Linked DNA regions of Homo sapiens: regions 1, 2 and 3 are each linked to region 4. The links come from fine-mapping of genetic effects on gene expression. A gene starts in region 4. Each other region holds a variant in brackets. All regions are shown on one strand. Distances are between the middles of the regions. Region 1 overlaps APAF1 (apoptotic peptidase activating factor 1). Region 2 has its middle 19 kb from the start of SNORA53. Region 3 overlaps APAF1 (apoptotic peptidase activating factor 1). Region 4 holds the start of IKBIP (IKBKB interacting protein).

Region 1 (8,142 bases), 92 kb after region 4:
TGTTTTTCATGATCATCATTAACAGTTTGTCCTTAGGATGCAAATGAAAATGTGAATACATACCTTGTTGTACTGTTGGTAAAATTCTGTCTTGATGCATTCAAAATGGTTGACATAATTAATGAGAAGAATTTGGAAGAAATTGGTATTTTAATACTGTCTGTATTTATTACTGTTATGCAGGCTGTGCCTCAGGGTAGCAGTGGCCTGCTTTTTGAACCACACTTACCCCAAGGGGGTTTTGTTCTCCTAAATACAATCTTAGAGGTTTTTTGCACTCTTTAAATTTGCTTTAAAAATATTGTGTCTGTGTGCATAGTCTGCAGCATTTCCTTTAATTGACTCAATAAGTGAGTCTTGGATTTAGCAGGCCCCCCCACCTTTTTTTTTTGTTTTTGGAGACAGAGTCTTGCTTTGTTGCCAGGCTGGAGTGCAGTGGCGCGATCTCGGCTCACCACAATCGCTGCCTCCTGGGTTCAAGCAATTCTCCTGCCTCAGCCTCCCGAGTAGCTGGGACTACAGGTGTGCGCACATGCCAGGCTAATTTTTGTATTTTTAGTAGAGACGGGGTTTCACCATGTTGGCCGGGATGGTCTCGATCTCTTGACCTCATGATCTACCCGCCTTGGCCTCCCAAAGTGCTGAGATTACAGGCGTGAGCCACCGTGCCTGGCCAGGCCCCTTCTCTTTTAATGGAGACAGGGTCTTGCACTATCACCCAGGCTGGAGTGCAGTGGCATAATCATACCTCATTGCAGCCTCAGACTCCTGGGTTCAAGCAATCCTCCTGCCTCAGCCTCCCAAGTAGCTGAGACTACAGGCACGAGCCACCACACCCAGCTAATTTTTAAGTTTTCTTGTAGAGACAGGGTCTCACTATGTTGTCTAGGCTGGTCTTGAACTCTTGGCCTCAAGTAATCCTCCTGCCTCAGCCTCCCAAAGTGTTGGGATTGCAGATATGAGCCACTGGCCTGGCCTTCAGCAGTTCTTTTTGTGAAGTAAAACTTGTATGTTGGAAAGAGTAGATTTTATTGGTCTACCCTTTTCTCACTGTAGCTGCTGGCAGCCCTGTGCCATATCTGGACTCTAGTTGTCAGTATCTGAGTTGGACACTATTCCTGCTCCCTCTTGTTTCTTACATATCAGACTTCTTACTTGAATGAAACCTGATCTTTCCTAATCCTCACTTTTTTCTTTTTTAAAAAGCAGTTTCTCCACTGCTAAATGTTAGTCATTGAGGTGGGGCCAATTTTAATCATAAGCCTTAATAAGATTTTTCTAAGAAATGTGAAATAGAACAATTTTCATCTAATTCCATTTACTTTTAGATGAATGGCATTGTGAATGCCATTCTTTTAATGAATTTCAAGAGAATTCTCTGGTTTTCTGTGTAATTCCAGATGAGTCACTGTAACTCTAGAAGATTAACCTTCCAGCCAACCTATTTTCCTTTCCCTTGTCTCTCTCATCCTCTTTTCCTTCCTTCTTTCCTTTCTCTTCTTTTATCTCCAAGGTTAATCAGGAAAAATAGCTTTTGACAGGGGAAAAAACTCAATAACTAGCTATTTTTGACCTCCTGATCAGGAACTTTAGTTGAAGCGTAAATCTAAAGAAACATTTTCTCTGAAATATATTATTAAGGGCAATGGAGATAAATTAATAGTAGATGTGGTTCCCAGAAAATATAATCAAAATTCAAAGATTTTTTTTGTTTCTGTAACTGGAACTAAATCAAATGATTACTAGTGTTAATAGTAGATAACTTGTTTTTATTGTTGGTGCATATTAGTATAACTGTGGGGTAGGTCGGGGAGAGGGTAAGGGAATAGATCACTCAGATGTATTTTAGATAAGCTATTTAGCCTTTGATGGAATCATAAATACAGTGAATACAATCCTTTGCATTGTTAAGGAGGTTTTTTGTTTTTAAATGGTGGGTCAAGGAGCTAGTTTACAGGCTTACTGTGATTTAAGCAAATGTGAAAAGTGAAACCTTAATTTTATCAAAAGAAATTTCTGTAAATGGTATGTCTCCTTAGAATACCCAAATCATAATTTTATTTGTACACACTGTTAGGGGCTCATCTCATGTAGGCAGAGTATAAAGTATTACCTTTTGGAATTAAAAGCCACTGACTGTTATAAAGTATAACAACACACATCAGGTTTTAAAAAGCCTTGAATGGCCCTTGTCTTAAAAAGAAATTAGGAGCCAGGTGCGGTGGCACGTGCCTGTAATCCCAGCTCCTTGGGAGGCTAAGACAGGAGGATTCCTTGAGCCCTGGAGTTTGAGTCCAGCCTGGGTGACATAGCAAGACCCTGTCTTAAAAGAAAAATGGGAAGAAAGACAAGGTAACATGAAGAAAGAAGAGATACCTAGTATGATGGAGCTGCAAATTTCATGGCAGTTCATGCAGTCGGTCAAGAGGAGGATTTTGTTTTGTAGTTTGCAGATGAGCATTTCTAAAGCATTTTCCCTTGCTGTATTTTTTTGTATTATAAATTACATTGGACTTCATATATATAATTTTTTTTTACATTATATGTCTCTTGTATGTTTTGAAACTCTTGTATTTATGATATAGCTTATATGATTTTTTTGCCTTGGTATACATTTTAAAATATGAATTTAAAAAATTTTTGTAAAAATAAAATTCACAAAATTGTTTTGAAAAACATTTTTGGATTGTTTCATTCTTTGCTTGTCATTTATCTGTTGATTAGACCACTAAAGTGAAGGATTCAAGCTAAATACATCAACCTTTCTATTTAGGCTTTATCAGCTATATGTAAATTCAATTCTATCAAAATTTTCTGAGTGCCTCCTCAGTGTGTCTCTCTGATGGTTCCTGCCCGGTATGGCTGGCATGAAGAAGATCCTGTAAAAAAGAGAATTCATTTATTTATTCACTTAGTTTGTTCATGCATTTGTTTAATAAATATTGAGATGTACCATGTGCCTGGCATTGTGGTAGGTATTGGGAACACAGGAGTGAGCAAAACAAAAGTCTTGCTCTACTGCAGTTAAGGGCCAGGGAGAGGCAGAAAAAGTAAATAAGTAAAATCTATAGTGAATTTGGTGGTATGTACAAGCGGAGGGGAAGGGGTTACGGTTTTAGATGGACTGGCTCTTTCAGAAGCTGACACTTGTACAGACCTGAAAGATGTGAGGAAGTGAGCTATGCATCTGTCGGGAAACCATTCTGAAGGATACAGCAGGTGCAGACTCCAGTGGGATGGTTGGTGTATTCTGGGAGCAGCCAGACGGCCCATGTGGCTGGAGAAGGGTGAGTGTGAGGAGTCTAACAGGAGAGGCAGAGAGGAATTGGGGTAGCACCGGAGGCTGCCTCTTAGGCCACAGTAAGGACTTCACTTTTGACTCTGGGAGCCAGTGTAGGAGTTTTGAGCAGTGGTCTGATTTAAGCTTTAACGAATCACCCAGGCAGTGGGAATCAACTGAAAGGGGAACCAGTGAGAAGCTTTTGTAATCATCCGGACAAAATGAAGGTGGGCCAGACTAGGGTGGCAGCAGCAGAGCTTGTGACAAGTTGGATTCTGGACATATTTTGAAGATAAGAGTTAATAGGATTTGCTGATGGATTGGATAAAGGTTGTGAGAGAGACAAGAAAAGAATGATGCAAGGTTTTAGCCTGAGCAACTGGAAGAAGAGAGTTGCCGTCAGCTGAGATGAAGACAATGAAAGCAGCTTTGCGGACGCGGTAAGTTTGAGATGCCCGTTAACGAGACATCCAGGTGGGGATGCTGAGTAGGCGGGATGCAAGGCTCTGGAGTTCATGGGAAAGCTCCACC[A/T]GGAGGTAGAAATCTGAGAGTCATCAGTGAATTGATGGTATTTAAAATCAGAGGAGTAGATGAAATCAGCAGTGAAGTGGGTGTAGATAGAAAAGACAGGGGGCCCCAAGACTGAGTCCAGGGCAGTCTGGAGATCAGTGGGATGAGGGATAAGCCCAGGAGACTAAAAAGGACCAGCAGAGACTAAGAGTTGCAAATTAGTGTGGTAAGTACAGTGAATGCAGCAGGCATGGGCCCCTTAACGTCTTCTTGTCTGTAGTCCTTGATCAGTCTGCTCATTCACCCACCTATCTATCCTGTACTCCTTGAGCATCTGCATGCCAAGCACTGTTTTAAGCAGCAGAGGAAGCAATAAGTAAATACATTTGAGTTGTTGAGAGATCATGGGGACAACAGATGATAAGAAAACAGGACAGTATCAGCAGTTGTCTTATCTGAAAAATGAGGATCCGTTCCTCCCTCCAGATTGTTGTAGGATTTAATGAGATAAAGCTCCTGAAGCACTTATCTCATTGCCTGCACTAAGAGACCGCTCAGGGGACATTCTGCAATGCCATTTGAGCTCCCTCCTCTTTGCCTGGCAACAGCCCCAGCTGCCATCTCTGCCTCCAGTTGTGCCCTTCTGCATGATCTTTCCAGAGCACTCATCTGAATCACATTAAACTTCTCTGTTTAAACTTTGTGTTTACACTTCTGTTTAAACCCTGGACCTGCTCCAAGTTCTCTTCTGTAGCTTTGTGTACACTGTTTTCTCTATGCTGTCCTCTCACCGATTTTCTTTTCCCCGCTAACTCCCTATGTTTCACAAATTCTTTAAGATGACCCTCAAGAGCTGAAGGGCTGCCCTGCCCTCTCCTAGCATTCTCTTTTCTCTGTCATGGCTTTTGTTGTTTTGGAATTGCTTGCTTATTGAGGTCCCCAGTAAATCGTAAGCTCCTTGAAAGCCAGGACTGTATAGAGTCTAACATGAGCCTAGCATTGCAATGAGGGCCTCAGTAAACACTTGTTGGATGACTGGAATTCATCTCCTGAGTTCCATGGGATGAATTTGCCCACGTGTTCATAACACAGTCTATGTTCTTCCTTTCCATAAGGATATCATGAGGCTGTCAAATGAAGATGTAGCATATCACCAGCATTTTATCTTGCCGTTTTAGTTTGGCCTTTTTCTGTGAAACATCATTAGGGGAAAGTAAAACTTTACTTGGACAAAAGAGGTTTGCTACCAAATTATATAAAATGAATAAACATATCCCTGGAGTGTTTAAGTCAGCAAGTATGGCCATCTATTATTCCACAGACATTTTATATTATAATTTACTCACTGAACTTTAACGAAGGAGAAAATGATTTTCTAATAATTCTTAGTCTTTGAAGATTGTCACTGGAATACATTCCTTGCTCATAACCACTCCCCTTGGGACCGTGGATATACTATACAGTTATTAAAATGCCTGAATTAGAAAATCTGCTGCTCTTGGGCTATGAGTTTAACTATAGAAGAATTACTGTATATGCTCACACGAGAGGGGCAGAAGAAGGGGGTCACATTTGAGACGTAGCAGAGACCAGGCCTTTGAAGTCCTCTGGCATCAACAATGACTTGCTCCTGAGTCAAATGATGTGAGAAAACCAGAATTTGGGAAATTTTCATTTCAATTAAGATTCAGGAAAATGAGTCACTGGTGTTCTTTGTAAATTCATTTATGAGGTCAGGCCCCCAGAACTGGGAATGCTCCTTATCACATAGAAATGAATAGAAAAATCTGCCTCTGTAATTTCCATCACCCAGGGCTAGAATATGTAACTAGAGAGGGTGGTCGAGGCCTGAGTTTGGGTCTGGGGGTTCAGAGCAACCGATCAAACTGGAAAACTGAGCAGGTGAGTGGAGACTCCTGCTGTTCTGAGGAGCACACGTTCGCATTCATTCAAATGTTTATCGCCGCTCCACTCGAGGCACTGCCCAACTCTCATTTATCTTCACAGAAGTTGAGTGGATCTGCAGACTGCAGCTTCAGTTTTTAGATAGAGGAAGAACTAAACCCCAGCAGCTAATCGGTGACAAAGCCAGGGCTAGAATCCAAATCTGCTATTCTTTATAGATAGAAAGGCCAAGACTCTTAGGCTTGTAAGTCACCTGTCAGTCACAACTGGAAGTAGAATACTCCTGGGTTCAGTGGCAGATGACATCAGCCTAGGGGTCATAAGGCTTGGTTTCACTAGCTGGGGAAAGTCATCCAATAGCTTACGTGATGGTTTTGGAGATGTTCTTATATTCACCTTCAATTAGCAGTGAGCCCTTCACTAAGCCCTTCATCTTGGGCTTATTGCCCTACTTGCTGTCAATTAACCTCTGGAGACACACCAAGTCTTTTAGAAGGAAGGAAGGGAGCTACTATTTTTTGAGGGCCTTTTATGTGCCAAGCCCACAGGCTGGGCATTTTCCATACGTTATTTAACTGAATCATAACAGTGCTGCAAGGTGTTATCTCTTTCATAGGTGTGCAAACAGATGCAGAGAGGTTAGGTTTCCAGGGCCCCACAGCCAAGTGGTGGAGCTGGGTTTCTGGTCCACGGCCTTCTGTCTCCACTGGGTGACACTCCCTGTACCTTCTCATTGAAGCCCCTGGGCTAGAGGGTCCAAGAGCATCACTTCAGTTCTGCATTTCATTCGTTACTCACTTGCATCAGGACAGATGCATCACTACTAAGCTCTCGGAGAAGGCATCAGATGCTGTCTGCTCCCAAGGAGCTTCTACTTTTGGTAGTCTGCTTAACTTGTATCTGTGCCTGTAGAGATTGCTCTTTGAAAAAAGCAGCAGGAACATTCTGATAGAAGCCAATGGATGGGACAGGTGGGGGGAATGCGTTGGATTTGCCAGCACCTGGCCACTGCCCAACCTGCTCTCAATTCTCAGATGATTCAGGTATTGAGCAAGGAAGGTAGCAGAGCTACTGTTGCCTTCCCTTTGGGGAAGCCTGTTTCTACTTTGAAACTCTTAAGGGATTCATTTCAAATTAGTGGCAGGCCTTGGTTAGTGGATCTGTGTGCTGTCTTCTGCCATCTTGATTGCATCTCCCCCCTTCTCCTTTTCCTTTCATTTGAAAAAAGATGCAGCCCCTCAGAGCCTCACTTTCCTGATTTGTCAAATAGGGAACCTAATGTACAAGGCTTTTGTGGGGCTTAGAAAAAACATGTCAAGAATCTGATATAGATCTCAATAAACAGCATAATACTTATCTTTCGTCCCAGTTACAAACCCCCATTCCTGTACTGCCCAAATCTCCATGATTCACAAATTGCGACCCTGCTGCTTCTGCTCCATGGCAGACACCTAGCTCCAGGCACCCTCCTCTACCACCTCCTTCTCCTTATGGCCATTGGCTTTTAGGAGACAGACATTGCTTACTTAGCAGGAAAGCTGTCACCTGCTTTCTTTTGAACTATCCCGAACTTGATTCTCTTTGGGCGACGCATACACCCATCAAGTGGTAAAGAAGACTGGGAATGAGGGGAGAAAAGACCCTGGGCTTGTTGCTGGGGCCAGTAGCTTGGGAGTGTGGTGGTATGTGTGTGGCTTTGGCTGTCAAGTGGATCTAAGTTCAACCCTGGCTACACTGACTTTCCAGCTGTGTGACTTCAGCAAATGGGTTAATCTCCTCAAGGATTCACTTCCTAGGGAGGCTTTAAATGTCCCCGGGTGATTCCAGTGTGCAGTGGAGGTTGAGAGCCAGCGCCCTCTACTCTCACCCTTGATGCCCAACCAACTCATTGCCAGTCTCCTCCTTTAGCACAGCCCATGATGCTGCGATGTCTGCCAATGCAGCATGCCCCTTTGTGCCTGCTCTGCCCATAACATTCTCAGGAGCTTGCTGGACAGCACAGATGTTTGGTGTGCATATTAACCCAGCTGTGGGGATCTTTCCTGCTCAGGTTTGGTGGCTAATTTATAGAGCAGCTCTGTCAGGATGATCACCAATCCCTCTTACAGGCACTGCTTTCTCTGTTCAAGTGTCTCACATGTGTGTGCTTGTGTTTGCCTTTTAGCTATTACTGTGATGATTCCCAATGTAGTAGACACTGCCAGTGACCACCGCAATATCCAATCTCCCCCTTTTCCTCACTAACAACCCCTGCATTGTTGGGGGCTGCAGTGTGCTCAGCTAAAACTAACAATTGCAGCCACATTTTCCATCCTCCTACATAGGGGTGGCCAATAAGCTGTATGCAGAAGTTGTGGGGTGGAGCTTCCAGGAAAGCTCTTAAAAGTCTGCCTTATTCAGCTGGACAATGCTTCCATCCTATGGTCCTTACCATCTTTTCTAATGCC
Region 2 (8,000 bases), 27 kb before region 4:
GAAGTTGTACTTTGGTCTACTTTTGTAATGTCTTGAGAAAGCGTCGTCAGACTGTTGTTCAGTATATCCTGTTTTTCAGTTATCCTATTGGACCAAGTTTTTACCTCATTAATTTCTTCCTGTAGACGCTTTAGATGAGCAATTATTTGAAAAGACTTCAATTGTTCCATGATAGCTTCAGATTTCTGCCACTATAAGAAAATATAATATCACAATGATTAAATGTATTAGAAGCTTACCATTTAAAATTCATCTTAAATTTTATATTTCTTTTTAATTTTAATTTTTTTTTTGAGACAGAGGCTTGTTCTGTTACCCAGGATGGAGTGCAGTGGCACGATCTTGGCTCACTGAAACCTCCACCTCCTGGGTTCCAGCGATTTTCCTGACTCAGCCTCCCAAGTAGCTGGGATTACAGGCACCCGCCCCCACCTCAGCTAACTTTTTTTGTATTTTTAGTAGAGACGGGTCTTCACCATGTTGGACAGGCTGGTCTCGATCTCCTGACCTCTGGTTATCTGCCCACCTCGGCCTCCTAAATCCATGCCTGGGATTACAGGCGTGAGCCACCACGCCCTGCCTTATGTTATTTTTTAACTACACTTTACTGTTCTTCTGGAAAGCATATGGTAAAAGACGACTTCAGAAGTAAGAGAATTTAGAACAATGTAAGTGAATTACTAATGAATAAGAAGGAAACATTAAGAAAATTTCATGAAATGTCCCTGGAAATTACATTTTTTACATTATAATATTTTCACAATTGGTCTTCTGTACAGTAATAAAATGAGCTACATGAGACAGTGATGTGGTTTTTCAGTTGCTGGAGAAGGGAAAAGGAAGTTTCCTCCAGTTGAGCTTTGCTAGGTGAGACAAGGCAACATAAGTTCTTTTTTATTTCAGCTTTATTAAGGTATAATTGACAAATTAAAATTGTATATATTTATTGTGTACAATGTAATATTTTGATATACATATCTACGCACATATTGTGAATGATTAAATCAAGCTAATGAACATATCTATCACCTCATGTATTTTTTTTTGTAGTAAGAATATTTAAGATCTACTCTCCTAGAAATTCTCTCTTTTTTTTGGAGATGGAAGTCTCACTCACTCTGTACCCAGGCTGGAATGCAATAGCCCCATCTCTGCTGACTGCAACCTCTACCTCCTGGGTTCAAGTGATTCTCCTGCCTCAGTCTCCAGAGTAGATGGTACCACAGTTGTGTGCCACCACGCCTGGCTGATTGTTGTTTAGTAGTGACAGGGTTTCACCATGTTGACTAGGCTGGTCTGAAACTCCTAATCTCAAGTGATTCGCCCGCCTCGACCTCCCAAAGTGCTAAGATTATAAGGCATGAGCCATCGCGCCCGGCCTCTTAGCAATTTTCAAGTATATATTATTATTATTTACAGTCATCATACTATACAATAGATCTCCAGAACTTATTCATCCTGTTTAACTGAAACTTTGTATTCTTTAATCAACATCTCTCAATTGTCCTACCCTGTCCCCTCCAATCCCTCGTAACCATTCTACTCTGTACTTCTATGAGTCTGACTTTTCTAGATTCCACATATAATTGAGATCATGCAGTATTTGTCTTTCTGTGCCTGGTTCATTCCACTTAGCATAATATCGTTTAGGTTCATCCATGTAGTCACAAATAACAGGATTTCCTTCTTTTTAAAGGGAGAACCGCATTTTGTGTGTGTGCGTGTGTGTTATTTATCATTCATCTGTTGATTGACACTTAGGTTGATTCTACATATCTTGGCTATTGGGAGTAATGCTGCAATGAATATGGGAGTGCAGAAAACTCCTTGACATACTGATTCATTTCTTTTGGATATATATCCAGAAGTGGGATTGCTGGATCATATGATTATTCTTAGTTTTTTTTTTTTTGAGGAACCTCCACACTGTTTTCCATAATGGCTATACTTTCCCACTCACAGTGTACGATGGTTCCCTTTTCTCCACATTCTCACCAACACTTGTTATCTTTTGTCTTTTTGATAATAAATATTCTAACAGGTGTGAGTTGATATCTCATTGTGGTTTTAATTTTTCATTTCCCTGATAATTAGTGATGTTGAGCATTTTTTTCCATATACCTGTTGGCCATTACTATGTCTTCTTTTGAGAAATGTCTATTCATGTCCATAGCCCATTGTTTAATTGGGTTTTTTTTTGCTATTGAGTTGAGTTCCTTATATATTTTGGATATTAAGCCATTCTCAGATTTATGGTTCATGAGTATTTTCTCCCATTCTATAGGTTGTCTCTTCACTCTGTTGACTGTTTCCTTTTCTGTACAGAAGATTTTAGTTTGACACAATCATATTTATCTATTTTTGCTTTTGTTGCTTGTTCTTTTCAGGTTCTATTCAAAAAAATCTTTCCCAAGACTAACGTCAAGAAGCTTTTTCCTCATGTTTTCTTCCAGCGGTTTTCAATTTCTGGTGTTACATTTAAGTCTTTAATTCATTTTGAATTGGTTTTTGTATATGGTTTGATATAAGGGTCCAGTTTCATTCTTCTGCATAGGATATCCAGTTTTCTCAACAGCATTTATTAAAGAGATGTCCTTTCCCTTTTGTGTGTTCTTGGCAACTTGGATGAGAATCATTTGAACATACACTTGTAGAAGTATTTCTGGGCTCTCTGTTCCATTAGTCTATGTTTTTTTTTTAAATGCTAGTATCACGCTGTTTGGATTACTACAGCTTTGTAATATATTTTGAGATCGGGTAGTGTGATGTCTCCAGCTTTGTTCTTTTTGCTCAAGATTGCTTTGGCTATTCGGGGTCTAAGGCAACTGCAAATAAGTTATAGCAAATGCTAGAATGAAGGGACCAATGTCCAAGACTATATGTCTACGCTTTATTGGCCTGTAACTTTTATGAACAGTTTTCTGGCCTATCTAACTATCCATGAGACCTTGAATAATTCAAATTCTCAAGTTCCTAGTATGTTGTTAGGCATGCAAAATATGTGGAACATAAAGATGAGTATAACTCGAGTTGTGGCCTCAACTTAGTTTAGTAGAGAAGACAGATAAGTAAAAGAAAAGAATTTCCAAGGTTCTAAAATTCTGATTCCAAATGCAGCTGTTTTTCAACTTTTGTATGTTTCAATGTCATCCTTCTTCCCCACTATACATTATGAACTGAAAGCTCTTAAATTGTCACCTTGATTTAACTTGGACACATTAACTGATAAACATTTGGAGCCACCCAAGTGTCTGGCAACATCTTGAGTTGTTATTTTTGTTGTTGTTTGTGGTGATGGTCCTGTGTCTGTGCACACACATGTGCGTGCCTATATAGCAGTGTTG[G/A]GGAGTTGAGTATTTTATCGAACTTTAAATATTTGACATTTTATTGCATTGTGCCATCAGTTAATAAAATGAAGAAGGGAAAATTACATAGCGATAAGATGGGTAGATCTCATAAACCACACAAAGTTGGATAAAGTCGTACAATTAAAACAAAGATGGAAATCAGGTAAGACTATTTAGCTTCAATCAGAAGATTAGCCTATGGACTGTGTGCTCAATTATGAAGAAAAATAAATTAAGAAACAAATGTAAAATGGCTAGAAATACATTGCTAATGCGTATGCCCAAAGACAGATATACAGTAATTACTCTGGAAAAAGAATCCCATTTATAATGTGTAAGTCAATCATTTGACTTTTGCATATTTAACTTTCAGCTTGTTTTCTAGGAAAGTACTATGTTGTAAAGTAGGAAATTATAACTTTCTATTAATAACCAAAACTAGTTTGATTTGACAGCATATACTGTACTACAGTATGTCCTAGTATGATCAAGAACAGTCTCTGCTTTTAGGGAGTTTGTAGTTTAGTTTGGGACACAGAATGTCGATAAATGTGTTACTTAAAATTCAGAAAAGAAGAAATAAAAAAGCTTGAGTCCAGGAGTTTGACGCTGTAGTGTGCTATGATTGTGCCTATGAATACCAACTGTGCTCCAGCCTGGGCACATAGCAAGACCCCCATCTCTAAAACAAAAAAATTGAAATTAAAATTTATAAAAACAAATAGACTGTAAAACATTTTTACAAAATTAAATATGCAGTTTAATCTAAAGATATCTTTTTTTCTAAAATAATTGTGTATTTCTTCAATGTTTTCTTATCAATTATCTTTCTTAAAAGAAAAAATTGAGGCCAGGCGCGGTGGCTCACGCCTGTAATCCCAGCACTTTGGGAGGCCGAGGTGGGCGGATCACAAGGTCAAGAGATCGAGACCATCCTGGCTAATGCAGTGAAACCCTGTCTCTACTAAAAATACAAAAAATTAGCCGGGCGTAGTGGTGGGCGCCTGTAGTCCCAGCTACTCAGGAGGCTGAAGTAGGAGAATGGCGTGAACCCGGGAGGCGGAGCTTGCAGTGAGCCGAGATTGTGCCACTGCACTCCAGCCTGGGCGACAGAGCCAGACTCTGTCTCAAAAAAAAAAAAAAAAATTTGAGATGGGGGTCTCACTATGCTGCCCAGGCTGGTCTTGAACTCCTGGCTCAAGTGATCCTCCCAAAGTGCTGGGATTACAGGCGTGAGCCACCACACCTAGCTTGAATTATCTTTCTTAAATTGTATTTGGATTACTTGGCTAATGCCAACCTTTTGAGATTATTTTGGTTATCATACATTTAGTTTTACTTAACACAAATAAAAATGAATTATGCTCAGAATATTATTTTGAGGGCAGCTTTAAAAAGAAGCATCCATATAGTTGCAAAATAATTATAATGAAGTACAGAAATGGGACAGTAGGACAAAATAATTCTAAGTAGCAACCCCCCCACTTCGCCCCATCATAAATGTTTAATTTCAAAATACACTTGAGGATTTTTCTCCTCAATTGCTTTATGCTTAAATTAATTATTGGTGGATAAGGTGGCCCAAAATGTGTTTTTTGGTAGAGAAGTGAGTTTGCGAAATGTTCCTGTGGGTATGACATTAAGCGGTAGCCACAAATAGGAAGGAAACCAAGAAGTGATTGCAAAATCACATTTTATTTTTAAGGAGGAAGTTTTGCAACATAGTGTATTTGATGAAACAATCTCCCAAGGGAGAAAGGACTAGACGGCTACTTTAATCTATTTCATTACCAGGTTATCATTTATTAATGTATCTACTCTGGTAAAAGTAGCTTAATAGCAATTAAACAATTAAGATGTTGATGAATGAGCTTAGCTTATTCTTAGAAGGATCAGATTATTAGGAAGAAGCTGTTAGTAAACCTCTTTGTTTCACTTGGTTGTTTATAATAGCAATGTATCATGAACTTCTATTGATCTTTATGAAAATATAAGCTCAATACAGTGTGGTAATAGTCTACAGATTGTTGTATTAAGTTATTTTAAAAATTACTTCGGGTTTGGTTAACCTATTTGCCTAGGATGGATAGAAGAGTTAGAGTCTATCAGTAGCTGAAAACAGCACATCAGTGAAGGCTGGGGATGGTGGCTCACGCCCGTAATCCCAGCACTTTGTGAGGCGGGGTGGATGGGTCACTTGAGCTCAGGAGTTCAAGACCAGCCTGGGCAACATGGTGAAACTCCATCTCTACAAAAATTACAAAAATAGCCGGGCTGAGCTGGGAGGATGGCTTGATCCTGGGAGGCAGAGGTTGCAGTGAGCTGAGATCATGCCACTGCACTCCAGTCTGGGCGACAGAACCAGACCCTTTCTCAGAAAAAAAAAAAAAAAAAAAAAAGTACATCAGTGATTTGATTATTTATTTATTTATTTATTTATGAGATGGAGTCTCACTCTATTGCCCAGGCTGGAGTGCAGTGGTGCAATCTCTGCTCACTGCAACCTCTGCCGCCTGAGTTCAAGTGATTCTCCGGCCTCAGCCTCCCAAGTAGCTGGGATTACAGGCATGCACCACCACACCTGGCTAAGTTTTCTATTTTTTTTTTTTTTTTTTTTAGTAGAGACGGGGTTTCACCATGTTGCGAACTCCTGACCTCAAGTAATCCGCCCACCTCAGACTCCCAAAGTGCTGGGATTACAGGCATGAGCCACTGCCCCCGGCCAGAATATTTATTAAATTCCTATCATATATTCAAGGTATGAGGTTAGATGCTGTCCTGTAATGTTAAACATTGCCTGGATCTACAAGCACAGCAACATGGTTCAAGAATATGATTTCTAGGTCCAATCTGCTTTCTAAAAACTTGCTAAAGGATTTTTTTTTTTTGAGACGGAGTCTTGCTCTGTCGCCCAGGCTGGAGTGTAGTGGCGCCATCTCAGCTCACTGCAACCCCTGCCTCCTGGTTTCAAGAGATTCTCCTGCCTCAGCCTCCCAAGTAGCTGGGATTACAGACGCTCACCACCACGCTCACCTAATTTTGTATTTTTAGTAGAGACACAGGTTTCACCATGTTGGCCAGGATGGTCTCGATCTCCTGACCTCGTGATCCACCCACCTCAGCCTCCCAAAGCGCTGAAATTACAGGCGTGGGCCACTGCACCCAGCTAGGTTCTTTGAATTCTATTAAAGGACCTGGAAATTTTATTGATCTGTATAATTTAAAACCATTTAGATCAGGCGCAGTGGCTCACACCTGTTATCCCAGCACTTTGGGAGGCCAAGGACGGAGGATCCGTTGAGGTCAGGAGTTTGAGACCAGCCTGGGCAACATAGAGAGACCCTCACCTCTACTTTTTTTTATATTAAAAAAAGGGTAAATAAGTAAATAAAACCACTTAAAGCCAGAAGGCATCTTAGGGATTATTGATATAATTCTCTCCTTTTACTATTTAAAACTAAGCCCTAGTGGCCGTGCGTGGTGGCTCACACCTGTAATCCCAGCACTTTGGGAGGCCGAGGTGGGTGGATCACCTGAGGTCAGGAGTTCGAGACCAGCCTAGCCAACCTGGTGAAACCCCATCTCTACTAAAAATACAAAAAATGAGCCGGGTGTAGTGACAGGCACCTGTAATCCCAGGTACTTGGGAGGCTGAGGCAGGAGAATTGCTTAAACCCAGGAGACGGAGGTTGTAGTGAACCAAGATTGTGCCACTGCACTCCAGCCTGGGCGACACAGCAAGACTTTGTCTCAAAAAACAAAACAAAACAAAAAAAACCTAAGCCCTAAAATAAAGTGCCCAGAATATGCAGTGGCAAAACCTATTAATAGATTAGAGGAGTACAGCCTAGGACTCTTCAGCACTGCTTTTTCCTCTTCTCCAACATTTATTCATTTATTGATTCCTTCTCATGCTCAAGGGCCAAACAATTTTAGAGCACAGCTACAGCTTTTGAGGGACTGAGTCTGGTTTAATGGCAACATGGTAGAGAACACATTTGACTCAATTATTGCTTTTTGAGTTATCGAGATAGTTCTACTAACAGCAGATTTGTTGTGATTTTTCTCCCCTAGTTGAACAGTAGCAGGCTCCATGGTGTAGTGAGATGTCCTTGGCCTCTGGAATTGAACAGACCTAGGTCTACAGTGTGACTGCAAGATTCCCAATGTTCCTAAGTCTCCATTTCCTTATTTGTAAAATGGGTCTAATAGCTAGTAAAGGTGTAGTAAGGATTAGTGATAATGACTGGCACAAGGTAGGTAATCAATATATAGAGCTGTTATGATGACGATAATGAAGGCTGGACGCGGTGGCTCATGTCTGTAATCCCAGCACTTTGGGAGGCTGAGGTAGACGGATCACGAGGTCAAGAGATCGAGACCATCCTGGCCAACATGGAGAAACCTCATCTCTACTAAAAATACAAAAATTAGCTGGGCATGGTGGCGCATGCCTGTAGTCTCAGCTACTCGGGAGGCTGAGGCAGGAGAACCGCTTGAACCCGGGAGGTGGAGGTTGCAGTGAGCTGAGATCGCACCACTGCACTCCAGCCTGGGGACAGAGTGAGACTCCATCTTAAAAAAAAAAAAAAAAAGGAATGATTATGATGAATGTACATCTCCTAGAAATGCTTGACATACGTGTGGGTATGT
Region 3 (8,142 bases), 72 kb after region 4:
GGAGGTTTCACCAGTGTTGCCCAGGCTGGCCTTAAACTCTTGGGCTCAAGTGATCTACCCATCTTGGCCTCCCAGAGTGTTGGGATTACAGGCATGAGCCACCACATCCAGCCTATTGTACACTTTTATACTAAATAAATCTTTCTGTGATCTATTAGTCATTGTTCGTTAAACTAACAATCATCTTATCCAGTTGGCTGTATATTTTTCAGATTTCCTTTATTACTGTTTCTCATGCTTTTTGTCTTTTTATGTCCCTTATTCTCTACTTAGTTGTTTGGCTGTTCTCCACATATATCAAATACTATCTATCAAGATTTCGCTAACTATGCAAAGAGCATTTTTTTCTCCTCTTCTTAGAAGCCCAGCCATGTGGGGTATAAGTTGTTTCCATTTCGGTACTGATAAGGCTCATGGGGAATATGGGTGCAGGGCTGCCTGTGCTTGCCTGTTCCACCAATCCTTGCTGTTCTACTTTTGGTGGCAGAAGAACCTCAGTTCACCACCTGAAATCCTTAATTTATCTAACAAGACCAAATAGGTAAAAATAGAAACACTTTGCAAGGCAAAAATGTAGTATAATAAAAGGCATTTTGGGTAAAAATATTGTTGTCTTTATCACAAGTGAAATTCATCCCAAAAGCACATTTTCTCTAGCTTTATAGTGGTTTTTCAAAAACCTTGGTTCCTTCTCTCACTTTTTCTCACCAGGTGTCTGGGAATTATTTTTTAACCAATTACTTATGGCACTGGCCACAGTTATTTTACTTTGGATTCATTTTCATAAGGAATTACACAAATATTCTCTAGTCCATATGGCCCCACAGAGAAGAGACTATATGCTTAGACACAAAGTGAAGAAGGAAGCATTTACACAGTGATCTCAATACTCTTATATATTTGTCATGGCCCTTATGTCATGGATTGAGAGTTCAGGCTTTGTTTTCTCTTTATTATTGTGAAAAATTTATTTATCATTTGTTAAGATGTGTACTATTCTGGGATAAAGTACATCATGGATATGTATTTCTTAAGCAAGGGATAATTGTATGTTTACAGGTGAACCTTAGGCTTCCATCTCAGGCTCATCTCTCAAACTGTTGTGTATTATTATTTATTCTTAAAGAGTCCTTGGTTTCCCTTTTCTCTTTACCTTGATGCCAAGTCAGTACCACATTCTTTTCATTTTTACCATCTATCTTAAAATAAGTCTTTTAGATAGTTTAAAAATAAACTCACAACACACATATGTGCTTCATCCACATCGTTAGTTCCCTCAAAGTCATCAAATAATATAAATAATACATAATGAACCATGTGAAATTACCAGCATTTACCTATAAAGTGGCAGTTTCATATGGTGTAGCCTCATATCATCAAATAATAGCAACTACCATTTATTAACTGTTTACTGTGCCAGATGCTCTCATTGAATTCTTATAACATCCTGGATGTTCGATGTTGTTATTCTTGTTTTAAAGATGTCTAAACTCTTATTTCCACAATTTTCATAAAATCAGTAAGTGGCAGAGCTAGGATTCAAACCCAGATCTCTGAGGCTGTGTGCTCAACTGTTATGCTATCCTGCCCTTGCCTCAGGGTTTGTGAGATCGTTCATCCCGCTCATTTAGGAAGGTTTCCATTCACACAATTCCCCTTTGTTTTCAAGGGGCTTTTCTTCCAGACGTGGGTTAGGTTTGAGTTTCTGGTGTCTCCTGCTTTAGCATCATCTGTATTTTCCTTAGGCTTTCTTGAGTACATTTTAATTTGGTCAATGAAACATATTTCCTCTCTTTTTGTTTTTTTGGTATGAGTTCATTTGAAAGCCTTTTTTTTTCTTTTTTTTTTTTTGACATAGTCATTATCTTTTGAATTTGTTACTACTTTTATTTAGAGTATTATTAGTCTTTGGCCCTCTTAAGTATTCTCATTGCACTGCCCACCAGCCTTCTGATATCCTGTCTCCCTCATCATCTTTTATCTTTCCTTGTTTGTGTTGTTTTATGAATAATTTGCCTTCTCATCCAGGACTTACTTACTTTCTTCTCTCTTATCCATCTTAAATGTCTTTTTTTTTTTTTTTGGAGGGCAAGCCCAGACAGCCACTTGTTTGATGAAGTGGGTAGTTGAGTACTCAGAAGGACCACTGGTTCCTACTGCTGTCTGATGATTGCAGTGAGTGTTTTATTTTAGGGTCCAATATGTTTGCATGTAGGCATACATGGTGTGCATATATATATATATATATATATATATATATATATATATATATATATGACATTCATTTGTTTTTAATTAGGCTGGAAGCACCAGATGGAAATTCTGTACCCTCCAGTCTAATTTTAGTTTAATATCTTTGGGGTGTAATGCCTATGTATTGCTTAGTTTCTTCTTAATTTTCTGTGTTTTTCTGCTTTGAAGATTTTAGAACTTGTAAACAATAGAATCTTCCAGTCCAGGTTTCAGCACAAGAAAACTGTATGGCACATCCAGTTCACAGCCGATGAGAAGACTCTTATTTCAAGTTCTGATGATGCTGAAATTCAGGTGAGAGGGAGGATGAACTCTTAACATATTTAATGCTGATTCTAGCAAAGGAACACTATGATTATGCCTAAAATCTGGTGTATATTTTAAACACATTACGTTGGGCATACATTCAGATTATGTACATGGGCTTAGATGAAACCTATGGGTGTTTCATATTTTTCTGTGGGTGAGGCAGACAGTTTATCTTAGAATCCTCTGTTGGAAGGTTGTTTATTTTGAAAATGAAGGGTTTGTTTGCATTTTCTTGCCTGTCTTGGTATTTGGATTTGTATCAGTAAGTATACTTTTTGCCACATTTATGTAATTTCTCTTTATTTTTCTTTACAGTAGTAAAATCCAATGGAAATCATTTCATTCTTTCCTTTTAAGAACAAAATGTTTATTACAGGAATGAAATTCTGTGAAAAGAGAATGGTTTGACATAATAAAGAATTGTGGATATGGAGGCCTAAACTTACTATATATTCTTTTAAAATTTACTTGATTATTAAAGTCCCAATGCACATTCTTTTAAAATTCAAATAGTATTACAAGACTTATTATGAAAAACAGACCCTTTCCCCCATTTCTCGTTCTCCAGAGGCACCACTTTTAGCTTTTAGATGATTCTTTTGATATTACCTTCATGCCTCTATATGGCATGCTTATAGTGCTCTTCTTGATTTTCCCATTTGAGAAGTTATCTACCGAATTCCCTACAGGAAGATGTTGCTTTTTTCCGCCTTCCACCTGTCCTGCCTTCAGCTTATGTGCATGCACACGTTCACAGACACTCATTTATCAATCCATTTATCCCAATTATAACGAAATTTTGTTTAGATCCTTCCTGTTACTATGATCACTGTGTACTAAGGGTACTGTGAATGCATTTTTTGCCTTAACGCAATTTAGGAAAATTTGACCTTTGGGTGTAGTTGGAAATTATTTTACACTAAAACTTTGAAGACATTGCTCCATTTTCTTCCAAGTTCCAAAGTTCACGTTGAAAAGTCTGAAGCCATTTTGCTGCCTAATCTTTCTCTCTGGAAGATTTTAGGATCTTCATTTTATCCCCAGAATCTTGAAATTTCCTGATGATACACTGTGTTGTTAGTTTTTATTCATTGTTTTGGATATTCAGTCTTCCTTTTCAATTTGGAAACCTATGATTTTTAATTCATGGAAGTTGAATTATTTCTTTGATTCTTTCCTTTTTGTTCCAGTTTGCTTTCTCTTTTTGTAACACCCATTATTCAGATGTTAGATCTCCCGGACTGATAATCTAGTTTTCTTTTTCCACATTTCATCTTTCTATAGTGTGCTTTATGTTTTTTTCTTTATTTTTTTTTGAGATGGAGTCTCACTCTGTCACCCAGGCTGGAGTGCAGTGGCGCGATCTTGGCTCACTGTAACCTCTGCCTCCTGGGTTCAGGCAATTCTCCTGGCTCAGCCTCCTGAGTAGCTGGGATTACAGCCGTATGCCACCATGCCAAGCTAATTTTTTGTATTTTTTTTAGTAGAGATGAGATTCCACCATGCTGGCCAGGCTGGTCTTGAACTCCTGACCTTGTGATCCGCCCGCCTCGGCCTCCCAAAGTGCT[G/A]GGATTACAGGCATGAGCCCCCGCACCTGGCCTACTGTGCTCTATTTTTGGGGAGTTTTCCTCAGTTTTGCCTTCCAGCCATTTTATTGAGTTTTTCATTTCTACTAGTATATTTCTAATGTGTTAAATTCTTATTTTGTAGATAGAATATTTTATCTCTCTGAGGAGATATACACACAGACAGGTAAATATATATAATATATATATAGAAATTATATACACACACACACACATATAATTTTTTTTTGTTTTTTTTTGAGACGGAGTTTCACTCTTGTTGCCTAGGCTGGAGTGCAATGGTGCGACCTTGGCTTGCTGCAACCTCCGCCTCCTGGGTTCAAGCGATTCTCCTGCCTCAGCCTCCTGAGTATCTGGGATTGCAGGCATGCACAACCACACCCTGCTAATTTTTGTATATTTAGTAGAGATGGGGTTTCTTCATGTTGGTCAGGCTGGTCTTGAACTCTGGACCTCAGGTGATCCACCCACCTTGGCCTCCCAATGTGCTGGGATTACAGGCATGAGCCACTGTGCCTGGCTTATATATATAATTTTTTCCCCATAAATTTTTGTTTTGCTGCATAGTTGCTGTTCCCTCCAAGTTGCTTTTTTCTGTTTGGTTGTTTTGACCTCCTATTTTGAAGGCCTCCTTAGCTCTCAGTGGTCATTGGCTATCAGAGATCTGTACTGAACAACTGGCTGAAAGCTCTGTGTGTTGACTGAGATCTTCTCTAAAAGGTGAATCTGAAAGGGGAAACTTTGTTGTGAGTATCTTCAGGTCTTTTGTCTTGGTCTCCTCAGATTCCTAGAGAGGAATTTTCTGGTCTTTTGCCTGGAGGATAAACCTGGCTGGCAGGTTCTCAGAGCTAAGTTGGGGAAGATAACAGGAAGTATTAATAGATGTTGGATCTCAACATTTAGTATGTACACCTTCCCTTGATCCCTCATTCTCAGAATTGTAATTCTACCCTCAGTTGTGCTGGTGCCCTTAAATTCAGAGATTCTTCTTTCTAGTTTGCTGTCACTGTCTGTCTACTTTCTTCCTTTTTTTCCCATAGTAACTTTGGGATTCAACAGCAATTCTTTTCTTTTCTTTTTCTTTCTTTTTTTTCTTTTTGAGACAGTCTTGCTCTATTGCCTAGGCCGGAGTGCAGTGGTGCAATCTCGGCTCACTGAAACCTCCACCTCCGAGGTTCAAGTGATTCTTCTGCTTCAGCCTCCTGAGTAGCTGGGATTACAGGCACCTGCCATCACATGCAGCTAATTTTTTTGTATTTTTAGTAGAGACAAGGTTTCACGATGTTGGCCAGGCTGGTCTTGAACTCCTGATCTCAAGTGATCTCACCTTGGCCTCCCAAAGTGCTGGGATTACAGGTGTGAGCCACCGTGCCCGGCCTTCTTTTTTATGTAAAATCAAGTTTCCTAAACTCCTTGGAGGAGTGGGGAAGTCCAGCATTTCTAGCTTCACAGCTCTGCAGCTCGTTCTCTTATTTTCACGAGGCATTAAAAATATGGCCTTACTGGGCGCAGCGGCTCACACCTTTAATCCCAGCACTTTGGGAGTCTGAGGTGGGAGGATTGCTTGAGGCAGGAGTTAGAGACCAGCCTGGGCAACATAGCGAGACCCCATCTCTGCAAAACAAAATAATTTAGCCAGGTGTGGTAGTGCATGCCTATAATCCCAGCTACTCAGGAGGCTGAGGTTGGAGGATCGCTTGAGCCTAGGAGGTCCAGGCTGGAGTGAGCTATGATCATGCTACCGCACTCCAGCCTGGGCAACAGAGCAAGTCCCCATCTCAAATATATAATGGCCTTGTTCTTAGGAGATCTCTTTGCCCCATCTCCTTCCCTCTCAGTTATTTCGACCTTCTCTTTCCTTTGATGCCCTTATCCTCGTTCTACTCCATTGGATTCTATTCCCTGTGGTTTCTCCTCACTGTAGGGTTGTTCTGGTTAATTTTGAGAGCTCACAAGGCTCACACTGCTCCAGTCCTTCCAGACTGTACCTCACACTCAGTGTCTCCTGCTCTTCTCTAGTTGTTCCATTGCACTTTTCGGTGAACACTGTGTGGCTATCTTAGGATTCTCTGCCTCCTAATTCTTAATACTTATATTCTTAGCCCCACCCTCATTTCCTCCTTTGGGTATACTTAGTGCCTTCCATTTTTGAGCATTTTGGGAGTTCATAATGCCGATTTTGTTGCTTTAGACTTTTTCTTTTCTTTTCTTTTTTTTGAGACAGTCTTGCTCTGTTGCCAGGCTGGAGTGCAGTGGCATGATCTTGGCTCACTGCAGCCTCCGCCTCCTGGGTTCAAGCAATTCCCCTGCCTCAGCCTCCTGAGTAGCTGGGACTACAGGCCCGTGCCACCATTTCCGGCTAATTTTTTTTTTTTTTTTTAGTAGAGTTGGGGTTTCACCATGTTGGCCAGGATGGTCTCGATCTCTTGACCTTGTGATCCTCCCGCCTCAGCCTCCCAAAGTGCTGGGATTACAAGCGTAAGCCACCACGCCTGGCCACTTTTGACTTTTTATAATGCCTTTAGGATTCTGTTTTCTTGACTTTGCTGAGTCAGTTACCATTCTCTTGCTTTCCAGCCTCCCACATTTTGTTGCTGTTATCTCCTTTCTCATTCTTTTGATCTTGCCATTTTAGTAGGGCTTTAGAAGTGAAGGATAGAATGCATATGTTCAGTGGAAATTATTATATTCTTTTATTTAGTATATATATTAATTGTGGTGGCAATATTTAATTGTATTGTTAAAAACCCTTTTGGGAAAAAGATCTTTTAATGTTATGTCTGTGTGAGTCCTAGGAAGCAGTATGATTGCAATGAAATTTGGCTTTAGTACAGAAACTTACTTGTTATAGGCTCCCATGACACTGGTGTTCTAGCTGTAAAACTCAGTGTAATAGTCACCTTTCTTCCTCTCCAGATGTCTTTGGAATGGGTAAAACTAAAAACTACATCTGATGAAGTTCTTTTGAGACATTGTATACTATGTATTCTATCAAAAGTTAAATTCATAAGGTTTTTATGACCAGCTTGACGATTTCAGGTATTCTCAGCTAGGGGGAAGAATAATTTCTAGAGATATTTTTAGAAAAGGAGTTAGATTATATTTAGAAATATGAGTTAAGTAGTTGTGTTTCTTCCTCTTTTTCTGTTCTACTCAGAATACTTTTTACATTTACAGTGTTTTAAATGTAACAAAACTCTATAGATATTTTCGAGAAATGACTGGTTGGGTTTTGTTTTCATTTTTTAAGGTTTTTGTAAATGATTAAGTGGAGGTTTGTTTTAATTATCTTTGTATCCCCAAAGCCTGGAATCCAGTAAGGGTTCTGTAAATCTTTGCTGAGCTGAAGTTATTGCCAAACTTTGAAGAATCAGCTCACCTGATTATAGCCCTTAGGATTGTGAACATTGAGGTCTACTTTGGTAGTTTTTGATCCTTTACCTTGAAGTAAATAAAGGCCAAGTATTACCCATGCTTACATGAGCCAGTATATAGGACTATGTTAGTTCTTGCTGGTATGAAAAGTTTCCAGCCGGGTGCGGTGGCTCACGCCTGTAATCCCGGCACTTTGGGAGGCCGAGGCGGGCGGATCACGAGGTCAGGAGATCGAGACCATCCTGGCTAACACGGTGAAACCCCATCTCTACTAAAAAATACAAAAAAATTAGCCAGGCGTGGTGACAGGCACCTGTAGTCCCAGCTACTCAGGAGGCTGAGGCAGGAGAATGGCATGAATCTGGGAGGCGAAGCTTGCAGTGAGCTGAGATCCCGCCACTACACTCCAGCCTGGGCGACAGAGCAAGACTCTGTCTCAAAAAAAAAGAAAAAAAAAATTTCCTTAACATTTCTACAATTTAAATTTTATTCATATAGCTGAAAAAAATTCTACAAGTATATATACATTGCAAAAATAGTCAATGATAGAGACATCCCCAAACTCAACTTTTGCATTTGACTAATGGTGGTGGAAGTTTAGTGATATTAAGGTTATTCA
Region 4 (8,142 bases):
GTATTATTTCTCTTTTCTTTCCACATAGGAAATGGTCTGAAGACAATGATATAGTGTGATTCCTTGAAATCCTTCTTGGGCAGTGGAAGGGTTCAGATTTTTTCCCTCCAACTTAATCAGATGAAGAGTGAGAGTAAGCAGTATTTAAGAGTACACAGACAGGCACACATATGCACTTGTATTTTAACCACCAGGGCCGTGTCAGTACGGAAAGCATTTAATAAAGATTTGATAGACCGACTTTTAGATGCTGAATTACGTGTTTTAGTGGTAAAGATCTCAATGGCTTTGTCAAAATTCTAGTGAGCTTTTAAGTATTTTAAGATGCCAAATACTTGCTTTTTATCTGGAAAATGTTTACAAATGTCTTATGGGGATATATTTTTATTTCAAAATTTACTATGAATAAATATTTTGCAATAAACAGCAACCAAAGTACATTTGCTTCAATTTTTGCAGCAAAAGATTTCACAAGAGCAACTAAGAGGCAACTATTTAAATAATAATTATAGAATCTGCCCATAAAAAACACATATAATACATACATTTTAGAGAGACAGGGTCTTGCTCTGTCTCTCAGGCTGGAGCACAGTGGTATAATCATGGGTTACTGCAGCTTTGACTTCCCAGACTCAAGCTATCTTCTCACCTCAGCCTCCCAAGTACCTGGGACTACAGCGAATGCCACCACACTTGGCTAATATTTAAAAATTTTTCGTAGACACGGTCTCACTATGTTTCCCAGGCTGGTTTCAAACTCCTGACCTCAAGCAATTCTCTCGCCTCAGTTTCCCAAAGTGTTGGGATTATAGGCATGAACCACTGGGTCTGGCCCCCAAAATTATTTTTGATATAGCATTGTGTTATCATTTTGCAAACATAGTTCAAATTAAATCTTCCTAATGAATGTAATACATTCATTACAATGTAATACAGGAATCACTAACAGCAAATTCCTGATGTGAGGGAAATTTTATTCCCATAAAGTTTAGTTTTCTATTAAAGCTTATCCCAGGATAGTAACTAACTTTCCCAAAACACAAAAGGTTACTTATTTATTTAGGCGAAGTCTCGCTCTGTTATCCAGGCTGGAGTGCAGTAGCAGATCTTGGCTCACTGCAACCTCCACCTCCCAGGTTCAAGTGATTCTCCTGCCTCAACCTCTGAGTAGCTGGGATTACACCAGGCCCAGCTAATTTTTGTGTTTTTGGTAGAGATAGGGTTTCACCATGTTGGACAGGCTGGTCTCAAATTCCTGACCTCAAGTGATTCGCCTGCCTCGGCCTCCCAAAGTGCTAGGATTACAGGCGCAAGCCACTGCACCTGGCCCAAAAAGGTTTTTTTTTCAATTTACTTAAAGGAGGTCAAGCATTTTAAGGCATAAGAGCCGTTTATTTAAAACAGTAAATTCAGTACATTTATTCCTTTCAGATCAAAATTAACATATTCCGTATTAGTAAAATAAATAATGCTATCTGCTTTTTTTTTTTTTTTTTTTGAGAAGGAGTTTTGCTCCATCCTGCAGGCTGGAGTGCAGTGGCACGATTTCGGCTCACTGCAACCTCCGCCTCTTGGGTTCAAGTGATTTTCCTGCCTCAGCCTCCTGAGTAGCTGGGATTACAGGAGCATGCCACCATGCCTGGCTTTTTTGTATTTTTAGTAGACACAGGGTTTTGCTATGTTGGCCAGGCTGGTCTCAAACTCCTGACCTCAGGTGATCCACCCACCTTGGCCTCCCAAAGTGCTGGGAGTACAGGCATGAGCCACTGCCGGCAGGCTGACAATTCTATTGTTTTTGAAGAGGGCGTTTAATCACTTTATTGTGACAAAATTTTGTTTGTTTGTTTTTTGAGATGGAGTCTCGCTCTGTTGCCCAGGCTGGAGTGCAATGGCACGATCCCAGCTCACTGCAACCTCCACCTCCCCATTTCGAGTGATTCTCCTGCCTCAGCCTCCTGAATAGCTGGGATTGCAGGTTTGTGCCACCAAGCCTGGCTAATTTTTGTATTTTTTGTAGAGACAGGGTTTCACCATGTTGGCCAGCCTGGTCTTGAACTCCTGACCTCATGATCTGCCCACCTCGGCCTCCCAAAGTGCTGGGATTACAGGTGTGAGCCACCGCGCCCAGCCGTAACAAATCTTTTAACTCTGAAAAATACACTATTTGGGATGAGTCACCAGTAAAGTATAATTCCATATGTAGTAGCATAAAAAATGTCTAGATGTCCAGGGTCTCTTCTAAAATTCTATCACTCTGGAAGATTAACAACAGTCTTACTAAATAACTTTACACATGAATGAAAAATGGAGAAAAATTCTATTAAGATGCCAATCTTATTAAAATGAAATGGGCTATTCCCTCCTCCCGCCAGAAAAAAAAAGGCTGGGAAAATAAAATTCACAAGTTGGTTTTTTTCTTTTTTCTTTTTTTACGAGTTGGTTTTAAGGTTATTTCTAATATTCATTTTTCCTAATGACACCAATATATCGCCATTTACCTGATTTTAAAACTGCAACTGGTTAGTTTTAAGTGAACACAAGTGCTATGTTTTTGTAGCTTTACCATATTCAATCTGTAACTTACTTAATAAAAGACCTTAAATTCATAATGCATGCACGGTGATCAAAATATGAGCACTCCTCCAAGCTCTGCTACTATAACGTTTGCTCCTTTGGGAGCATAATGATATGGTTTTCTTTTTTTTTTTTTTTTGAGACGGAGTCTCGCTCGGTCGCCCAGGCTGGAGTGCAGTGATGCGATCTTGGCTCATAGCAACCTCCGCCTCCCGGGTTCAAGCGATTCTCCTGCCTCAGCCTCCGGAGGAACTGGGACTACAGGCGCCCGCCACCACGCCCGGCTGATTATTCGTATTTTTGGTAGAGATGGGGTTTCACCATGTTGGCCAGGCTAGTCTCGAACTCCTGACCTCAAGTGATCCACCTGCCTCGGTCTCCAAACATAATGATCTGTTTTAAGGTTGCAAGTATTTCCATTAGGTATTTATGGGGTGAGTAGGGTGGGGCAGATGTGTCCCGGAATGGGGCACAGCGGACAGGAAGTAACGGTTTATAACAACGTGAACGCTTCTGACGTGTAGCGGGAGCTTCAGAAAGCGTGGCCGAATCTGCAGCTCTTAACAAATGGCTCGTTCCCAAACCTTAGCCTCAACTCCTTCTGAGCGATAGGGGCATGCTACCAGCACGGGGGGAAATGAGATACAAGAAACGCCCGAAAGGGAAAAACAAGGCTGGGCTGTTTCCTTCCTTTGGGGTCAAGACAGAGGCACAGAAGGCCCAGGTCTGGGAGGTTGGATCACCTCCGGCTGGATGTTGAGCCGGGTGGGAGCCCAAACAGCAGGGGGCCCACAGGAGGCCGGCCCAGGCAGCCTCGCGTCCACTTACCAGGCCAGGCCCAGGCACGTCCCCAGCGACAGCAGGCTCAGGCACGTTCGGGGGTCTGCCCAGCCCCCGCCTCCGCTGCTCCGGGCCACGGGGGTCTTCCCGCCCTCGCTCCGCTTCCCGGGCTCCGCAGCAGGGGCTCCCTTGGGCCCCGACTTCTTCCGGCTCTTCACCTCAGACATGTCTGGAGACCCTAGGACGACAAGCCCAGGGCAGCTTCTTCACCAGGGGGAGCAGGACGTGGCCGCCTTGGCGTTCGTGGGAACCCTGGGCGGTGACCGCGCCCCCTCACAGACTTGGCACCGCCCAGAGCCCAGCCCCTTCCCTCTCCCCGGCATCCTCGTTGCTTCACTGAGTCTTTCAGCTGCCAGCTCCATAGTTCCCCTAGGAGAGGTGGGCGGCGACCTCAACCCACAGCGCCTTCCACTGCGATATTGCTCCAAATCCGAGGAAATTCAAACTCCCGGGCGCGCGCAGGCCGACGGGACCCGAGGAGGAGGGGCAGGACGAAGGGGTCGCGCGCGCCACGTCGGGCGCGCCGCCGCTGCCCGAGTCCGGCATTGGTGGGAACGCGGCGCGTCCCTGAGGCTTAGCCACGCCCCGTCCGCGGGGTAGGCGGGCACTTCTACGCGCGCGGGCATGAGCCGTGGCAGGAGTGCGCGGCGGCAGCGGTGGCCGCCCCTTGGGGCTTGGGGTGTGTTTATTTGCATAAGCGGGCGCGCGCCGTCCGGGCTGGGTGGATCCGGCGGGATTTGACTGCTCCGCTGTCCAGAGGCGGAGAAGAAGAGGTAGCGAGTGGACGTGACTGCTCTATCCCGGGCAAAAGGGATAGAACCAGAGGTGGGGAGTCTGGGCAGTCGGCGACCCGCGAAGACTTGAGGTGCCGCAGCGGCATCCGGAGTAGCGCCGGGCTCCCTCCGGGGTGCAGCCGCCGTCGGGGGAAGGGCGCCACAGGCCGGGAAGACCTCCTCCCTTTGTGTCCAGTAGTGGGGTCCACCGGAGGGCGGCCCGTGGGCCGGGCCTCACCGCGGCGCTCCGGGACTGTGGGGTCAGGCTGCGTTGGGTGGACGCCCACCTCGCCAACCTTCGGAGGTCCCTGGGGGTCTTCGTGCGCCCCGGGGCTGCAGAGATCCAGGGGAGGCGCCTGTGAGGCCCGGACCTGCCCCGGGGCGAAGGGTATGTGGCGAGACAGAGCCCTGCACCCCTAATTCCCGGTGGAAAACTCCTGTTGCCGTTTCCCTCCACCGGCCTGGAGTCTCCCAGTCTTGTCCCGGCAGTGCCGCCCTCCCCACTAAGACCTAGGCGCAAAGGCTTGGGTAAGTTGACCTCCTCGCTTTTCTCCCCGAGCCAGGTTCTTTGGAGGCTTGGTAGCTGATTTCAGGGACTGAGAATTTGAGGACATGGAATATTTGATAACCATCCTGCTCCTGTACCAGGAAGAGAAATTCTGTAATGAGGAAGTAGTAAACTTGGGGTTTTCGTGGATAAACGTGCGCTGTTTTCTGTTTTACGTCCATGAAGAGTTTTGGCTTTCCATTTTGTTGTGGGTTACAAAAGGTTTTGAGACTTAGTTCAGATAAGTTGTGCAGTTTTAAAACGTATTTAAGATTTGCATATTTTAGTTTAACAGGACTAGGTGAAATTGGAAATTAGTTTCAGAAAACCAGAGTGTCTTATTTGCTTAGCTATTGGACATCACCTAAAAAATTCATTCATTCTTGTTTTTTCACATCGAATTTCATTACTATAAATTAAGGAACATTTTATGTTTAAGAGGACAAAAACGTTATTAACATTTTAAAAAATGAGAGTTTTGATTCGAATCAATAACTTTTTATCAGTTTTGTGCCCCTGCTGGGCATTTTGTAAGCCTTGACAAGCATAGGCAAATGCCCTACGTCCGTCCCTGTTTTTCCAAGTGCTACATTTGGTGACTTCAAAAACAGTCATTGAAGCTTGATAATTATTGCCCCCTTCTGTGAGCTCCAAGTTACTTGTGCTCTGTTTTTGCACTTCGGGCATTCACATTCCCACTCTCTCTCTCTTTTTCTTCTTTGAGTAGACTGTGAATTATTTCAGGCAAATGACTCAATCTTTTCTGTAGTCTTGGTGTCTGACATATAGGGAGGGGCACAAATGTGTATTGAATGAATGAATTGATAAACCCGTTTAGACTCTTTCACTCTATACATTGTGTAAAGTTCTGTTAATGTTTTGAAAACTTGCAGATATTGTGAACTGGGTTTTATGCCCATGGAAAAATTTGCATTATATTTGAAATAAAGTTGCTAGAAACGTCAAGTATTTTACTATAAAGGCTGTTATTCTTTCCTCATGTCCTCCTGGTCTGAGAAATCACATCAGAAAGTGTTTCCTGTTGCTTTGTGGGAAATGTGTTTAGCAAGGAGGACCTAGAGCTGACATCCTCCTTGAACGAGAACTAATACTCAATAGTAACAATGCTCTATTCACTCTTATGTTTGATAAGGAAAACAAGAAGTCTCTTAATATTAGGACTTCAATGTAATCACTATTTTATACAATCTTAATTAAAAAAGGAAGTATTTTATTGTAAGAAATGATAATGTGTGCTAAAAAAAATTGACAGTAGAGGCCGGGCATGGTGGGGCTCACAAGTGTAATCCCAGCACTTTCGGAGGCTGTGGCGGGTGGATCACCTGAGGTCAGGAATTCAAGACCAGCCTGGTCAACATGGTGAAACCCCGTCTGTACTAAAAAAAAAAAAAAAATAAGACAAGGTGGGGGAGAAATCCCAAATTTTGCTACTCAGAAGTAACTCAAACATTTCGATGAATAAACTTCTAAACGTCTATATATATTCATATGATACCAACACTTGTTTTTTTTTTTGAGACAGAGTCTCAGTCTGTCGCCCAGGCTGGAGTACAGTAGAGTGGTCTCGGCTCACTGCAACCTCTGCCGCCCTGGTTCAAGCAGTTCTCTTGCTTCAGCCTCCCGAGCAGCTGGGATTACAGGCACCTGCCACTGCATCTGGCTAATTTTGTATTTTTAGTAGAGACAGGGTTTCACCATCTTGGCCAGGCTGGTCTTGAATTCCTGACCTCGTGATCCACCCGCCTCGGCCTCCCAAAGTGCTGGGATTACAGGCATGAGCCACTGCGCCCGGCCCCCACGTTATGTGTTGTATGTGGGATCATGTTTCTGTTTTTTTTTTTTTTTTTTTTCAGCAACAGTATTATGAACATCTTTCCATGTCAATACATGGAGATATGTGTCATAATTTTGAATGGCTGCATAATATTCCATTTTATATACATACCCTAATTTTTAAAATCTATATTCAGAATGATGGACATTTAGGTTGCGTTCATCACTGAAACATCCTCCATTAATTCTTTTTTCTTTTTATTTTTTACTCTAGCCTCCCAATGTGCTGGGATTATAGGCTTGAGCTACCACACCTGATTGGAAACTCATTAATTCTCCTTGTGGATATTTTTACATATGTATTTGAATGTCTCCTTGAAGTAAATCCTTAGAAATGGGATTTCTGGGTTAGAGAGAAAGCTTATTTTAAACAATTCCATATCTTACTGCTTTCCAGAAAAATTGCATTCATTTTCTAGTTTCCCCAATTAGTGCATAAGAATGGCCATTTTCTCATACCTTTCCAAGCACTGGGTTTTGTCCATTTAAAAATTTTTGCCAAGGAAAAAAAATCAGTTTTGTTCTTTTTACGTTTCTTGTTTATTAGTGAGATTATGTATCTTTTCATATTTTTATTGGCCTGACAAATATTTTGGTGTTTTGGCTGTAGCTCATGGTTGACAGCTCAGAGAGAGAAAGATCTGAGGGAAGATGGATGCAAAAGCTCGAAATTGTTTGCTTCAACATAGAGAAGCTCTGGAAAAGGACATCAAGACATCCTACATCATGGATCACATGATTAGTGATGGATTTTTAACAATATCAGAAGAGGAAAAAGTAAGAAATGAGGTAAAGCTCTCTGAAGCAGTCCACACTTCCTTAAAAATTTTTAGAATTTCAGAACTTGTACTGGTCTCCACTACTTTATGTTGCATACATATTCATTGTTGTATACTAAACTACTTAATTTTTTTTAGCCCACTCAACAGCAAAGAGCAGCTATGCTGATTAAAATGATACTTAAAAAAGATAATGATTCCTACGTATCATTCTACAATGCTCTACTACATGAAGGATATAAAGATCTTGCTGCCCTTCTCCATGATGGCATTCCTGTTGTCTCTTCTTCCAGTGGTAAAGATTCAGTTAGTGGAATAACTTCGTATGGTTTGTATCCATTATACCTTCTATCACTTTGCTATCAAAATTGCTTTGGGTTTGTCTTATTGTAGATGTAATCTTTTGAAGAGAGTGTGACCAGTTCACTGAAAACTGCATGTTAAAAAAATTGTAGTGATGTTTTCAATTTAAATATTTTTTATTTGCATCCACATTAACTCTCAACTTTTCTTCTTGCCCAGTGAACTGTACTGCTGAGATAATAATATGTCTACCCTAATTTTTAGAGACAATAAGACAATTTATAGGCCCTTGTTTATTTTCCAGTTCTATGTGTTTATAGAGTTTATAGGAAAAAATAAGAATCTTTAGAAATATATGTTCTTGAAAGGTATTCCATAAATGTTCTTCCTTTTACACTTGCCTTCCCAGTCTTCAATATGAGAGGGAATGAAAAGTCAGGAAATAATTGGGTGAGTAAAGCAGATATAGATA

What was found. PIP is the estimated chance that this variant, and not a neighbour inherited with it, causes the effect.
Region 1: its variant is fine-mapped to the expression of IKBIP in blood mononuclear cells (TOPMed, PIP 0.92).
Region 2: its variant is fine-mapped to the expression of IKBIP in whole blood (INTERVAL, PIP above 0.99).
Region 3: its variant is fine-mapped to the expression of IKBIP in whole blood (TOPMed, PIP above 0.99).

Annotation. Positions count from the first base shown.
Region 1 is chr12:98,732,756-98,740,897 of GRCh38, forward strand. It overlaps APAF1 (apoptotic peptidase activating factor 1), which reads left to right. Exons shown (of 27, transcript NM_181861.2): 27 at 1-2,678. It also overlaps a transcript of ANKS1B not described here. Among named protein-coding and RNA genes, the nearest start is that of APAF1, 92 kb to the left of the region's middle. The variant A/T (reference allele first, on the strand shown) is at 3,812.
Region 2 is chr12:98,614,150-98,622,149 of GRCh38, forward strand. It overlaps a transcript of IKBIP not described here. Among named protein-coding and RNA genes, the nearest start is that of SNORA53, 19 kb to the left of the region's middle. The variant G/A (reference allele first, on the strand shown) is at 3,345.
Region 3 is chr12:98,713,006-98,721,147 of GRCh38, forward strand. APAF1 (apoptotic peptidase activating factor 1) reads left to right here. Exons shown (of 27, transcript NM_181861.2): 22 at 2,422-2,547. Among named protein-coding and RNA genes, the nearest start is that of APAF1, 72 kb to the left of the region's middle. RefSeq lists a silencer at 4,712-4,912. The variant G/A (reference allele first, on the strand shown) is at 4,131.
Region 4 is chr12:98,641,121-98,649,262 of GRCh38, forward strand. It overlaps IKBIP (IKBKB interacting protein), which reads right to left and starts at 3,668. Exons shown (of 3, transcript NM_153687.4): 1 at 3,403-3,668. The coding sequence starts at 3,581. It overlaps APAF1 (apoptotic peptidase activating factor 1), which reads left to right and starts at 4,170. Exons shown (of 27, transcript NM_181861.2): 1 at 4,170-4,715; 2 at 7,199-7,377; 3 at 7,506-7,695. The coding sequence starts at 7,240. RefSeq lists enhancers at 2,386-3,013, 3,014-3,640, 3,641-4,268 and silencers at 3,845-4,044, 4,365-4,574.